Homo sapiens: one gene and its partner. Each later gene encodes a partner of the first gene's protein in a complex. Each region holds a gene or a part of one and is shown on either strand. Other genes may lie near its edges. A codon is read from its position in the direction of its gene.

What was found. The genes of interacting proteins can lie anywhere in the genome.
Region 2: the proteins of NUP35 (region 1) and NUP93 are in contact, whole or in part, in a crystal structure (PDB 7MW1), measured with the Homo sapiens proteins. Residues at the interface, in NP_612142.2 of Homo sapiens: Ala88 (codon at 3,026), Pro89 (codon at 3,029), Pro90 (codon at 3,032), Val91 (codon at 3,035), Arg92 (codon at 3,038), Ser93 (codon at 3,041), Ile94 (codon at 3,044), Tyr95 (codon at 3,047); in NP_055484.3 of Homo sapiens: Tyr266, Tyr269, Asn402 (codon at 6,169), Ala407 (codon at 6,154), Asp408 (codon at 6,151), Lys409 (codon at 6,148), Thr410 (codon at 6,145), Glu411 (codon at 6,142), Tyr413 (codon at 6,136), Tyr448 (codon at 5,744), His452 (codon at 4,906), Phe453 (codon at 4,903), Val455 (codon at 4,897), Asn456 (codon at 4,894), Leu461 (codon at 4,879).

What each region holds. Positions count from the first base shown.
Region 1 is NC_000002.12:183,127,443-183,135,914, forward strand, and holds part of NUP35 (nucleoporin NUP35), read left to right. Parts: intron 1-844; coding exon 845-1,015; intron 1,016-2,975; coding exon 2,976-3,103; intron 3,104-3,552; exon of another isoform or gene 3,553-3,675; intron 3,676-6,123; coding exon 6,124-6,181; intron 6,182-8,472. UniProt on the Homo sapiens protein: Functions as a component of the nuclear pore complex (NPC).
Region 2 is NC_000016.10:56,831,129-56,838,128, reverse strand, and holds part of NUP93 (nuclear pore complex protein Nup93), read right to left. Parts: intron 6,288-7,000; coding exon 6,122-6,287; intron 5,835-6,121; coding exon 5,741-5,834; intron 4,915-5,740; coding exon 4,723-4,914; intron 4,002-4,722; coding exon 3,875-4,001; intron 3,760-3,874; coding exon 3,687-3,759; intron 3,396-3,686; coding exon 3,351-3,395; intron 1,529-3,350; coding exon 1,412-1,528; intron 522-1,411; coding exon 403-521; intron 1-402. UniProt on the Homo sapiens protein: Plays a role in the nuclear pore complex (NPC) assembly and/or maintenance. May anchor nucleoporins, but not NUP153 and TPR, to the NPC. During renal development, regulates podocyte migration and proliferation through SMAD4 signaling.

The DNA of each region.
Region 1 (8,472 bases):
GATTAAGAAAAAAGATACAAAAATAAGTTTTCGACTCTTTTCAACATGTTTCTGAGTTAGGGTGCTAGTTATCACTGTTATTTTGTAAGTGCTCTAATATATGCATGGTTACGGTTTTATCACAATAATGATGAACTTTTTATGGGGAAGAAAAAGAAACAATTTAGCAAGCTTAACCCATTGTGTTTGATATGCTAAGCTTTGTATGTATAAGTAGTGCAGCCTGTCCTTGTTTTTGGTTGTTACATAGTCCAAACTGATTCGGAAATGGAAAGAAGTTATTAGTGTGATTTTTAAACCCCTGAAATAATGTAAACAAAAATAGCTGTCACAGATAAATATTGTGCTGCCAGGTGTACTGGCTTCACACCTTTAATCTCAGCACTTTGGGAGGCCAAGGCTGGTGGATCACCTGAGCTCAGGAGCTCCAGAGCAGTCTGGGCAGCATGGTGAAACCCCATTTCTGCAAAAAAATACAAAAATTAGCTGGGCGTGGTGGTGCAGGCCTGTAGACTTAGCTACTGAGAGGCTGAGGAGGGAGGATCGCTTGAGCCTAGGAGGTGAAGGTTGCAGTGAGCTGAGATTGCGCCACTGCACTCCAGCCTGGTGACAGAGTGAGACTCGGACTCAGAAAAAAAAAAAAAGTGAATACAAGATAACTTTACATTTTTCTAGAAATATTTTTTGTTGGCTTTTAAAATAATAAATTCAACTATGGTTCTATTATATCTAAAAGTTTTGATTAAATTTGCAAAATTATGTTAGATTCTTGCATGTTTTTGTCATCAACATGTAACAGAAACTGTAACAGAAAAGTCCTTAATTTATTTTTTGATTCATGTAGGATCTGAACCAATGATGCTGGGTTCACCCACATCTCCAAAGCCAGGAGTTAATGCCCAGTTCTTACCTGGATTTTTAATGGGGGATTTGCCAGCTCCGGTGACTCCACAACCTCGATCAATTAGTGGCCCTTCAGTAGGAGTAATGGAAATGAGATCACCTTTACTTGCAGGTAGGTGAATTGCTTAAAATAATTTTATAGACATGCTAGATACAGGGATGTCCAATTTTTTGGCTTCCCTGAACCACATTGGAAGAAGAATTGACTTGGGCCACACATAAAATACAGTAACTCTAATAATAGCTGATGAGCTAAAAAAAAAAAAAAATGCAAAAAAAATCTTAAAATGTTTTAAGAAAGTTTACCAATTTGTGTTGGGCAACATTCAAAGCCATCCTGGGCTTCATGCGGTGTTCAAGCCATGGGTGGGACAAGCTTGTGCTAGAATTTTTAAAAGTGTAGTGGTGCAGCATTCACCCTCATCAATACATTAATTAAAAAAAATTAAGCAATGTGTCTATTATAAAGCAAAGCTTTTAAGGCTCTTGGAATAGAGGTGTAAGAAGTATAAGCTATAATTTCTAGAGCCACTAAAATGTATTCTATGTTTTTTTCATTCTAAGATGCCTTTGAATTGGCTTTTAAGTACCACTAGGAAAGATAACCCTAAATATGACACAATGCTAAGATGCCATTTTTTGTAAAATTTCTGTGTCGGAGATGTCAGAGTGTGGTGGGGGAAGAGTGCCTCACAGAGTTGATGAAATACCATCATTTAGCTTCAACTGAATTCATTTAAAGTAATTCATCTTAAGATACAAGAATAGGAAATAATCGGTCAAAAGAAGTGTAACTTGAAGATGTAGATACGAATTCTGCCTTTAGTCTTAGTGAATTGAGATTCTCACATATAGCGTGTTTAAGGAAACTTGGGGGGGAGGTTTTATACACAGAATTTGTGATTGTCAGGGCAAAGTATTGTAAATGCAGCCTGTGTTTATTACAGAACTCCTTTAGCAAAGAAATACTTTAAAAAATGACTTCGAAGTTTTAACTGAGTAGTGAGAATTAGATACAGAAGTGTTGAATTCTAATTGTGAGCTAATATCCTTTAGTAGTAGTTCAAGTGAAAACTCTTTTTACCTTAATTGCCCTTTAAAGTATTTTTGCTTTAAAATGGTTTATTATTTAGGATTTATCAGGGAGAATTATAAATTATATTTGAAGTAATTCATTTAACATTAAACATTAAATTTCAAATGTGTTATTTTATTATGGTAGCCAACGTATATTGATTGCTTATGAGCCTGGCAGTATGCTAATCATTATTTTGTCAATCTTAAAGGGTAGGTAATAGTATCCCCATCTTTAAAAAGAGAAAACTGAGGCTAAATGCAATAAGTAATTTGCTGAAGCTCACTTGCTAGTAAGTGAGCGAGCGCTATAAACCTCAGGTTAGTCTTATTCCATAGACTGTGCTCTAAATAGCTTAAGCTGTACAGTCCAGGCTCAGACATTAGTCTTACCGATGGCCTGGGCTGCATCACTATTTGACATTGCATGTTCTCTGATCGATAAAGACATCTTTATGTCACAGAACTTGGTCCTTTTACTACATCTTTATTATGTACTTAAATATATTTCTACTGTGAGAAACATGAATGGGATCTACTTAATCTAGATAGTCAAACTCTACATAGGGAATTGTATTTATTCAGGAATCTACAGACTGGAGCTGTTTAGTACCTACTTTCAAGTGAGAAATGGGATCAAGTTTTGTATTTAAATGTTAAGCGTTTTGTAGAGTGAGCAAAAGTTACATGTGTTTTCTGAAAACTAAGATTTTCATTAACTACTTACTCTGAATCCTTTTATTCAGAGTGCAGTCTATGGATCAGCAGCATTGGCATTACCTGGGAGCTTATTAGAACTGTATAATCTCAGGCTTCACCCTACACCTTCTGAATCAGAGTCTGAATTTTAACAAGGTCCCCAGGTGACTGTTCAGCATATTAAAGTTTGAAAAGAACTAACAGACAAGATTTTAAGTCAGTATTTCAAAAATATAAATTTAAAAAATCTTACCAAAAAGAAGAATCCCTTTTTTTTTTTTTTTTTTTGTACACTGTAGGTGGGTCACCACCACAACCAGTTGTACCAGCTCATAAAGATAAAAGTGGCGCTCCACCAGTTAGAAGTATATATGATGACATTTCTAGCCCAGGACTTGGATCAACACCTTTAACTTCAAGAAGACAGGTAATATAAATACCCTTTTGATCCCCAATGAACAACATCATGGTTTTATGTGTCTGTTCAGTGAGAGTCAATACTTTGAAATGTTTCCCTGAAGTCTGTTTTAATGTAACTGTGTTGCACAGAATAAACATTAAACACATCATAGAATCTACTTAAATTGTGTTGATGATGAACTGTACTTAACAGTGTAGAACTCTAGATTTTCTCTCATAGGTAATTCTCAGGTGTTTATAGGTATGCCTTATCCACCTGCCCATAGCTCCAACCTACTTAATATACATGTAGAATGTGACTATGGTTTAAATCATTCTGATTGTTTAAGAAGTTTAATATTTAATATTTAAAAATTATGTGAAAGAACAAATGAAAATTTAGAGTTTCATCTAGATCTAGGGCACTCGTCAGCTGAGAAGTAGTATGGACTTGTCTTTATTTTCTTCTTTTTTTAGGGTCCCCAACAGGGTCCTGATCAGTTGCCCAGGCTAGAGTGCAGCGGCACAGTCATAACTCTGCAGCCTTGAACTCCTGGGTTCAACCAATCCTCCTGCCTCAACTGTCCTATTGGGATATAGGCACGTGCTGCTATGCCTGGCTAATTGTATTTTTTTTTGTAGAGATGAGGTCTTGCCGGATTCAGGTGATCCTTGCACCTTGACCTCTCAAAGCGCTAGATTATAAATGTGAGCCACTGTGCCTGGCCGACTTTTCTTTTAAGTAGAAAATTTAGTAGCTTCATAGACACAAGTGTTGTTTCCTATTATTATTGTGCTTAGTAGGACATATAAACAAAGTTTATCAGTTAAGTTGGTAAGTTCTTTATATAAAGATATGTCTGCTGTTTGCTTTAGATATATGTTTTATGCCTTTCCCTAAATTGTATTTAGTGAAGTTGAGAGTTCAAGAATATTAGAAAGCATTTTTCAGTGGATTCGTGCTATTTATAGGCTTGATATGTCTGGCATACTAGGCTTACTTGTCAAGTAAAGCAAAATTCATTCACTGTGGTAAACAGATTACTGTTTCTTCCCAACACTTCTAGACCTGCCTTCCTGTCCAACAGGAGCCACTAGCTAAGTGTGGCTATTGATACTAAAGATATAGCTAGTCTTTATTGAGATACACTTTAAGTATAAAATACACACCAGAGTTTGAAGACTTAGAAAGAATGTAAGGTATCTTATTTTTTTATGTTGATTACATATTGAAATGATAATGTTTTGGATGTGTTTGGCTAAATATTACTAAATTTCACCTGTTTGTACTTTTAAAATGTGCCTACTAGAAATGGTAAAATTACACGTATGGAATTTATTGTTCCTAATGGATAGATATCCTGGTCTGGGATGGTTTTCTAAAGGTTGATAAGTAAAGCTTATGATTAGTTTGGTATGAAGGCTGGGCGTGTTGGTGCATGCCTGTAATCCCAGCACTTTGGGAGGCCGAGGTGGGCGGATTGCTTGATTTTTATGTATTTTTATTTATTATTATTATTTTTTGAGACAGGGTCTTGCTCTATCACCCAGACTAGAGTGCAGTGAAATGGTCATGCCCCACTGTAGCCTCGACATCCTGGGCTCAAGTGATCCTCCCACCTCTTCTCCCTAGTAGCAGGGACTACAGATGTGGACCACCATGCCTGGCTAACTTTTGTATTTTTTGTAGAGATGGGATTTGTCCTGTTGCCCAGGGTGGTCTTGAACTCCTGAGCTCAAGTAATCCACCTTCCTTGGCCTTCAAAAGTGCTGGGATTACAGGTGTGACCCACTGTGCTGGGCTTTGGGCAGATTGCTTGAACCCATGAGTTTGAGATCAGCTTGGGCTACATGGCGAAACTCTTGTCTCTACTGAAAATACAAAAAAAAAAAGGCTAGATGTGGTGGTGTGTACCTATAGTCCCAGGTACTCAGAAGGCTGAGGTGGGACGATTGCTTGAGCCTGGGAAGCTCAGGCTACAGTGGGCTGTGATCGTGTTACTGCACTCAGCCTGGGTGACAGAGTGAGACCCTGTCTCAAAAATAAAATAATAAAAACTAAAAAATTAAAAAATTGTTTGTTGCAAGAACCACTGGCTTCTAAATTTGTGCAAGGTTTTATTACTTCTCTGATGATACAGACAAAGGCTTACAGATATTGCTGTATTCAAAATGTTTGAAAGACTCGTGGGTCATAATTTATAGAGAATGTTTTTGATTTGAAAGTTGGTAAGAATATTATTGCTAGATTAGAGCCCAAATTAGTTATGCCCCCTGGAATTTGCTCAGTTTGCTTTCTAATCATGAAAGAATTGGCATTAATAATTGAGGAATAAATTTTATATCTCTCCCAACATTCTCTCAGCATTTAGTTCTGGTTGCTAAATGAAGCTATTTGAGATTTCCTTAGTTTAATTAGAATCTGTTTTAAAAAATCTTTATTGAGTTCTAGAGAGATTCTGTTCTCATTTATTGATTGGATATTGTCTTTGTTTTAGAAGGATTTTAAACTATTTTAATCCTTAATTTTCTTATATTTAAAGGAACTAAAATGGATAATTTACCAGTTTTGGAACTTTCTACTGGTAGTGGTAGGGATATGCTGTCTTTTATTGTTTAGACTGATTTGAATCTATAGTGTTTCATGGTTTCTAAGTATCTGTTGAAAATCAAATTTTGTCACCCTTCTGTTTTTCTGTATGAACCTGGTCATTTTAAAAATTACCATTATCTCTGTTATTTCAAATATTGTACATTAGAAACTAAAAACAAATAGTTAACATGTCACCTTTTACAGAAGATAGTCTTTTTTTTTTTTTTTAACATAATATGACTTTTCTTATTTTAAACAAATACTAAGGGATCTAGTAAATTTTAGGTTAATACTGTTTAACTTATGGGGAAAAAAGAGTGCCTTTGTACTTTGAGCTAATTAGAGGCATCTCTAGCACATGATAAAAATTCAGTTATCCATTGAATGAAGCCTTTTAACACTTACTGTATTTATGTTTTGCATTTTTACCATAACACTTTCTTCTGTTTGTGTAGCCAAACATTTCAGTAATGCAGAGTCCTCTTGTTGGAGTTACATCTACTCCTGGAACAGGTAAGTGATTCTTTCTTTTTTTTTTTTTTTTTAAAAGACAGGGTCTGGCTCTGCTACCCACGCTGGAGTGCAGTGGTGTGATCACGGAGTAAACAACTCTGACACCAAATACTTCTCTATTCTTCGAATGAATTTAATATAAAATGTTTGTTGGTAACTGCCAAAATTTTTTATTTTATATTTCAAACTTGGAGATTTTCCAAAATCTATAACTTCTTTCAGGAAGGAAATACTTTGTATATTGATTATTTTCTGAATCAAATCACCCTAAAGGTATGGTGGGGTGAATATTCAGAATGTCTTTTTAAGAAATTGTATACTTAATAGATGTTTGAAGTATCTCCTTAGTTATTAAAACTTGTCAATAAAAAAGCCATTGGAATTGGGATGAAAAGGAATAGTTAAGACACTGAATAATAAAGGTGTTTTGAGAGATGTTAATGCATAGTTATAAATCTAAATGCCGTTGAATAGAAGCAACCACTGATTATATACCTAGTTTTTCTTTAAGATTAATGGCTTTTTAATAATCATCATTATGCTTAGCACAGTTCTTCATATGTCGTCATATGTGTATAATCCCATCAAATGTTTATTCAGCAAATATTTGAGCACCTAACTGTGTACTCTGGGAAATAGTAAACAAAATAGATATTCCCTGCCTTTATGGAACTTACATTTATTTGCAGAATTTACATTTATAAACAAAACAAGTAAATTATAACATTTGTTAGAAGGTATTACATTTTGTGGAGGAAAAAATTAAGCAGCAAAGGGGGGGAGGGGGTAGAGACTTAGAGTTTTAAATAGGGTAATGTATTAGTTTTCTGTTGCTGCCATAACAAACTACCACAAACATAAAAGTGGCTTAAACAATACACATTCATTATCTTTCATTTCTGGAGGTCGGAAGTTTGAAATGGGTCTTGGTGGGCTAAAATCTAGACATTGGTAGGGCTGTGTTCATTTATGGAGGTTCTAGACAAAAATCTATTTTTCTTTTTTTTTTTGAGATGGAGTCTTGGTCTGTCGCCCAGGTTAGAGTGCAGTGGCACCATCTCGGCTCACTGCAACCTCCACCTCCTGGGTTCAAGTGATTCTCCTGCCTCAGCCTCCCGGGTAGCTGGGATTACAGGTGCTCGCCACTGCGCCTGGCTAATTTTTTTTTTTTTTTGTATTTTTGGTAGAGATGGGGTGTCACCGTCTTGGCCAGGCTGGTCTCGAACTCCTGACCTTGTGATCTACCCACCTCGGCCTCCCAAAGTGCTGGGATTAAAGGCTTGAGCCACCGCGCCCAGCTGGCAATAATCTATTTTCTTGCCTTTTCCATTTCTAGAGGCTACTTAATGTTTCTTGGCTTATGGTTCCCTTCCTCCATCTTCACAGTCAGCAACTTTGTAACTCTTTGACCATTCTTCTGTAGTCATATCTCCCTCTCTCTTTTAAAGACCCTTGTGAATACATTGGGCCCTTCTAGATAATCTAGGATAATCTTTGTATTTTAAGGTCAGTTGATTAGCAGGGTTAATTCCACCTGCAACCTTAATTCCCTTTGCCATGTAATGTAACATTCACAGGTTCCAGGGATTAGGTCATGGACATCATTTGGGGACCTACCCAGCTTATTCCACCTACCACTGATAGTTAGGGGGCAAGTAAACTTTACTCAAAAGTCTGTAAGTGAGGGAGGTAGGGAATAGTATTCTAGACGGAGGGAACAGTGTGTCTGGGGTGTTCAAGGAAGAATAAGGGGATGGTGACTGAAATGGAGTAAGTGAGGGGGAGAATAGTGGAAAATGAGGTCAGAGAGGAGAGGTAATGGGGGCAGATGTATTACATGGCCCTGTAGGTTATTGTCACAATTGGTCTTTACCCAGAAAAGGTGGAAGACAATAAGGATGAGACTGTTGCTGGGTTCAACTAGTTTGGGAGTAAAAGTTAGCTTAGAAGCAAGGAGACAAGTTAGGAGGCTACTTGTAGCAATCTAGGTGAGAGATGATAGTGATAGAAAAAGTAGGCAGGCAAGAAGGGAAATAATACAATAACAGGGAAAGATGGAACATAAGAAACAATAGCAAGACAGTAGATTTTAAACTAAGCAAATCAGGCATGTGCCTGTAGTTCCAGCTACTCGGAAGGCTGAGGCAGGAGGATTGCTTGAGCCCAGGAATTCGAGGTTGCAAGGGAGCTGATTTTGTCACTGCACTCCAGCTTGGGTGACAGAACAAGACCCTATCTCAAGAAAAAAGTAAATAAAAATTTAAAAAAAAAAGCACGCAAAAAAACTAACC
Region 2 (7,000 bases), on another chromosome or scaffold:
GTAGTCTGAAACACTGGCCACGACACCTCTAAGAATCTCCCCCATCCAACCATCACTAGCTTTGGTCTTGAATGCCTTTGAGAGGGCTGATGAAAGTATACAACAGTATTTAGGCGAGCATAATGCTTAAAATTAAGCTTTATGTGCATGATTAAAATACTGAGATGCCCTTTCATACCCATTTCTTTGGCAAAAATGTTAAGTTTGATAGTACCAAGTACTAGTTCTGATGCGGGGACAAAGGAACTCACACAGTGCTGGTGGCATGGTGAGTTAGTAGAACCACTTTGGAAAGCTGTCTGCTGTTACCTAGTAAAGCTGAACATGCATTTGGGTGGGCATAGGTGGCCTGGCACTGGCAGTGGCACCCTCAGGGTCCCATGGAGCCAGCTCCTGGCTTACCGTTCGGCAATGGAGAGTGCCATGTTCTTCAGCCTCTCCTTGTTGGATTGCGGGGCACTGATCTGGGGGACGACAGGGCTCAGCAGTTTGTTCATCAGCTCCAGTACCTTGTCAGCATTCTGCTCAAGTTTTTAAAATTAAGGAAGCAATCAATAAAGTAATCAATAAAAGGAACAACTATATAATGCCCCCTACCCACCAAAGAGAACTTTCTGGGGTGACATTTTTTACCGCCTCCCAAGTTCAAGCAATTCTCGTGCCTCAGCCTCCTGAGCAGCTGGGATTACAGGCATGCACCACTATGCCTGACTAATTTTTATATTTTTAGTAGAGACGGGGTTTTGCCATGTTGGCCAGGCTAGTCTCGAACTCCTGGCCTCAAGTGATGCGCCTGCCTTGGCCTCCCAAAGTGCTGGGATTACAGGCGTGAGCCCCTGCACTTGGCCTATAGCTGTTTTTTTGTCTACTTTTCTCAGTTGATAAAGGAGAGAATGTAATCTTGTTTAGGTCATAGAATCCTTAGCAGTTATCATATGTTCTTAGTCATCATTTGTTCTTCGGTAGAAACATGTATTCTAGTCCTCTCAAAACGCCCAGCTAAGGTCTTATTTTCTTTCACTCCTTCCTGCACACTGATGTGGTCTTATTTTCTAACACCACTGTTCCCCAGTGTGTCTGTGGTTGCCAGGGTCAGCATAATGTAATTTTCAACAGTGGCTTCACCATCGAAATGTGATGGATGCTAATTCTGCTGCCAAGTGAGACAACAGTTCAATGCCTGCAGGACATCCTTTCAATATGTTGTTTGGTCAGAAAAATCTTATGGGCAGAAATAATGCTGTAAAATGGGAATTCTGTCCTGACTGGACCATTAACTGTCTAAGCACTAGAGCAAATGCCTCTGCAGGGAGGGTGCTACAACAATGACACTGTCCAAGTGGCTGCACATTTAATGCCAAAAGGCCAGCAGACCTGTGAAGTGCAAAAGAAGGAAGTGGGCACACTTTACCTTGGCAAGGTCATACAGCTTTGCTGCCTCTTCAAACAGTCCTTTATTTTCTGCCACAGAAGCAACTTTGTTGATAATAGGCTTTGTGTCACTAGTAAACTTATCTATGACTCCAGGCTGACAAGACAAATTATGGAGGGGGAGGAAGAGAGAGACGGGTGCACAGAGCTATTATTTTAAACACAGAGAAGCAATTAGGATCCAAAAAATACTTCAAGTGGAATTGCTTGCCCTGGGCAACGCATATATTTCATCAGCCAGACTCTGGCTTTCTTAAAGATATAAAGTCCTATTAAAACTATAAAAGAGACCAAGGAAACTACACATGAAAGGGCAGACTTACTAGAAGCACAGAGGAGTCAGCAATAAGACATCTGTGCTTTCTAATTTTCCAAAATGACCCAGAGAGTCAGTGAAATCAATGATTTTAAATTTGCTGATAAGTAGGAACTAGAGAGAAAAATCAGGAGGCTTAGAAAAAATATCTGAAAAATTTTGGATTTGCTTTCTAAGACAGATGGCAAAAGGAACTCAGTGCTGAAAAAACACACAGCAAGTGGTAACAGGACATTTCTTTTTTTTTTTTTTTGAGACAGAGTCTTGCTCTGTCTCCCAGGCTGGAGTGCAGTGGCGCAATCTCGGCTCACTGCAAGCTCTGCCTCCCAGGTTCACACCATTCTCCTGCCTCAGCCTCCCGAGCACCTGGGACTACAGGTACCCACCACCACGCCTGGCTAATTTTTTTGTATTTTTAATAGAGACAGGGTTTCACCGTGTTAGCCAGGATGGTCTCGATCTCCTGACCTCATGATCCACCCGCCTCGGCCTCCCAAAGTGCTGGGATTACAGGCGTGAGCCACCGCGCCCGGCTGGTAACAGGACATTTCTTAAAAAAAAATCACCATCACCACTCAACAGCAACTAAATGGTCAGGAGAGCATGAGAGAGGCCTTAGGCACCCTGGGAGAATGAAGGCAAGTGCATAACATCTCTGCCTGGCCATTCTGCTTCTCCACTAGCGCTGGACTCTCAGGGCTAGACCAGGTCAAGGTGGCTGGACCAGGTTGAGGTGACTTGCCCTGCCACTTGGGAGGTAGCAGAGGATAAGGTCTTATCTATGTTTCTAGCTCTGTCAACTCACATACAGTAGGAGCCTCCTGGCCCCAGTGCAGCCTGTTAAAGAAGAAACTATGCAAAGCACTCAGCACAATGCCTGTTGATTGTCACTGCCCAATAAGCAAGGCCACTGTCATCAGCACTGTCACTTGCCTTTCTTCTGAGGTAGATGGTGTGAGCAGTGTGAGCTCATCTACAGATTGCTGGGTCCAAATCACTCATTTTTACAAACGAGAAAACTCAGCCCCTGAGGGACAAGTGACTTTCCAAGGGCCACAGGGAGATTCAGGGTCATGACTGGTCTCTGACAACAGGATCTCTGACCCTCCTGCCATGACAACCAATGGGCATAGTGAGTCCTGAAATCCCTCAAGCTTCCAGAAGTATTTCCAGGGTCACTGTGGAGTTCAAAGCCCTTGGAAACTGCATTTTGAAGGAGGTCAAGTGCATGTCTAACTTTCCCATCTTGGGAGAATGGGTGCAGTAATCAATTTCTTTTCCTTGCATGTTTTCTGAGCCAAGAATGGCAGAAATGTATAATAGCATTCTCAGCTCAAAAAATGACAGGCATGAACAAATGAATATTCTGAACATAATAAAAAAGCTATGTAATCACAAATTAACATATTTTAAGGAGATATAAGTGTGTGTAAAACCAAGGTCATCATTTGGGCCCATAATTTTCATTCCATTTTTTAAATTAAGCAACTCTGTTCAGATTTGCATCTTTAGTACCTTGAATCTTAAAATCTAAGTGTATTTTTTGATATTTATAAATCCCCAATGGCTAACGAACATTTCTCTAAGGATGCATTTAACTCACCTTTCTACTTCCGTCATTCTCTAGTTTCCCAAGAATCATATCGAACTGTGGAAGGAAAAAAGTTTACTCAAATTATTGGACAAAGATATAAACATATTCCATAAGTCTTCAGAGAAAAAAGAGGGGAATCAAATGGGATGAATGGGATAAGTCTTAGGCAAACTAAAAATCAGTGTGACTGAAATAAATATTTTCATTGTTAGAAACCAAAGAAACTCCAAAAACTCCCTAGGCCTTATCCACCACAACCATATTGAAGTAAACACGCAATACGGAATGAGCATGGGACATGCACACTGAAAACCATGGGGAGGAGAGAAAAGGAAACCCACTCACCTCTCGGCTTTCAATCACAAGCTCACTCACACAGCGCAGAAACATGTTTTCTCCTTGACTATCTTTCTCATCCCTGTAAGGGAAATAAACAACTCAGTTTCCAGTCTGGACATGAGGTCTCTAATAGTCATTCTCAGAATGGCAGAAATTGAAACTAGCTGAAGTAAATGGTCAAAAGCAAATGTTACCTGAGGAAATAGAAGTACTGGAGGGCCTCCCTTGGGTCCGTGGACTCAAACTTCCGGGTGTACAGCATGAGGAGCCGCACGAAGTTCAGCCGCCGCAAGCAAGGAGGGTCACCAGGCTCGTGGCTGACTGCATTGTGGGGGTCAGAATGGGTCACAACCACACTGCCCCTCTGACCCATGCAACCCAGAAACTATGGAAGCTGAATCCACAGACCCAGCAGCATCTACTCCTGCAGCCCAGTCAAAGTTTGCTAATATAAGCTTTGGCCAGTCCCTTTTACCATCCTATCCTCAATTCATCCCCAGGCCCAGAGTGGAGAAAACAGCACTTTGCCATAAATTACTAATATGCTGGTCTTTGAGTGAAAACATAATCCAACTGACGATTATGGCATGTGCTCTGGGATGACTTTGCTGCAACAATAAGGAACCTGCAGCCATTCATCCACATTTACTTCCTCTCTCTCCCCTGACTCTCTCATCCCAGGCAGGTATGCACATGCCTGGCTGGGGTTTCCAATGTCATTAAAGCCAGCCCTAATGGGAATCAGACCCATAACTCTAGGGGCTGCTTCTTCAGCATTTTCCAGGCAATCAGACTGGCCACAAAGCTAGTACTTTGAACATCACTTTATATACTTAACTTTCAAGGGAATACTAATGCTGGGGGGTGGGGGGGAAGCAGGAACCCTTAACACTAATCATCTAAAAAGCTCAACTGTCCACATGCTCTAAAATGACTGGTACCCTTTGCTCAAATCCTTATTGGTTGTGGTTTTGTGGCCACCGTCGCCCCAAGGGGGACGTGCTGTGGTTACATTACTGTCAATCCAATCCCAAATACTCACGGAGCTGAGCACTCTGTCCAGAGGACTTTAAAAGCAGCTTCAGCTCAAACAGCACCAGTGCTACATGGACAGCATGGCAGCGCAGCCGCTCCATGCGGAAAAGAAAGGCAACTGCTGCTTCAAACTGCGCTGTCAGGAACAGGACTTGGAAGTAGAGGAAGGGTTGCTGGTTCACCGTAAAGTGGGACTCGCCTGGGAGAGAGGAGAGGAGAGGAGATAAAACCAACTTAGAAAGAAGGGGCTCACTGGTGGCCCAACCCCCAGGCAGCAGCCCTGTGAGCCCACAGGACTTGCTGGACAGGAAGAAAGCACCAGATTGAGTCTGAATTGATCAAGGGGGCCCTGAATACAGTAAACTGCCATGTGAAATGTGACCTGGCTCCTCCACCTTCTCTAGACCTCATAACATTACTGGAAACTGTGACTGTGCTGTAAAACTCCAACTGCTTGCATTAGGTGGGAGAGAAACAGAGCTAAGGACCTTAAAATGGACCACAGAGAGTGTTTATCTCCTTTACCCTGTTAAGTCACTCAAGGAGAGAAATGAAGATTTCAAAGGAGTTTCAGTTTACTCACAGTCACAGAAATCTGAATGCAACAACTGGTAACCACTATTTGGAATCTTCTTTTCTTCTCAGTTTTTAAAAAATACGGGAAAAAAGAAGAAAGGCTGTTTCTCTCTCCTTTGTGCTCAGATCTAGTGACTGGTACGATCGACTAGGAAGCAACAGCTAAGTCTTCTTTTTCTCTCCCTGAGCATATGTCTACTAGAACAGTTCAAAGAATTAGAGAAAACAGATTATTGTGTATGACCATATAAGTTTTATGTATTTCTTAAGGCCACATGCCCTTTATTTGAATTTGGAATGGTAGTTTTGTTGTGTTTTGCCTTGACAATCTATAGGAGTTTTGGAAGAAAGACAAAAGTTCAGAGATGAAAAATTTTCCCAGAGGAAAACTGAAGTAGTCACCTTAAGTGGACAAGAGAAGGGAAAGGTGGTTATGTCCAGAATCTTACCATAGTCTTCCAACAACTGCTTCTGGAACTGTGAGAGAGTGAGCCTGTCTTGTGGGGAGCTGGTGCCATCGTCGTCAAAACACACTTGGTTCAACTAAATCCCCAAGAGAAACACATGCATTGGTACAAATGACACCCTGAGCCACATGCACAGAGTTGTAGCTGTTCAGCAGCCATGCTCAATGATGTCAGCTAGAAGCTGTGTTTAAGGCTATGGTTATGAGCTGGGAATTACACAACAAAAAATGGGGACAGGAGACGAGGAACCCACTGGTCCTGATCACTGTATTGGCATCATACATTAAGCAGGTAAAATCTTTGCGGGGACTTGAGCACAGAAAAGGGGTAAAGCCCTATGTGGGCAGGGGAAACAGTGCCTACCTTCAGCCACAGGTAATCCTCAGTTTTGTCCGCCACTTCACTCTGGTTGTCGGTGACGTCACATCTGCCAATGATACAGTACACGGCCCGCTTGTAGGGATCTGTATTGTTCCTGAGGGCCCTACGGTAATGCAGCCGGAGCTTGTTTTCCGTAGCTGGGGACAATCTACAGACATAAGGGAACAGACAGATAGATACATACTCAATAAAAATCCTCAAGGGCATCTGAAAGCGTCCCAGGTCCCAAACACATAAAAGCAGGGAAGCCTTCCTTCATCCGGGGTAAGAGACACTGTCTCTGCCCCATCCCCTCCCCTCGGTACCATCGCTTTAACCTGACTTGCAACTACCTGCACCTGTATCTATTGGCCTGCCGGTTTTCTATTTGCTGAGGCCTTCATGGGCAGGTGAGAAATGCCAGGGAATTAGAACTCCATTGCACAACCCAGCAGCACTCAAGCAGTGATGGACAGGAGTGAATCCTTCCCTTAACTGTCTTAGCCCCTCCCTGGCCTCCACACTCCCTTATTCATGTGAGATCACCTCCTAAATAAACAACTTGCACTCAAATCTCCTTCTGGGGGAACCTTAAGACATTAACCCTACTTTAAATTCTAACATGAGCAAGACAGGGGCTTCTGGTTTGAGGCAATCTCTTGATATGACATTAGTAATGCTGCCAAGAAAAGTATCCTAGTTTTTCACAAGTACAGCTACAGTAACCGCCATCATTTCTTCTACATACATGTACATATATATAACCTCAGTTTGAGTATGAGCTTAAGTCCAATTACATTAGCAAAATCCAAGGAAAATTAATGCTTAGCAGTTCCTTAATGCAAGAGAACTTAAAGACTTAATGAATCAATTCAATGATTA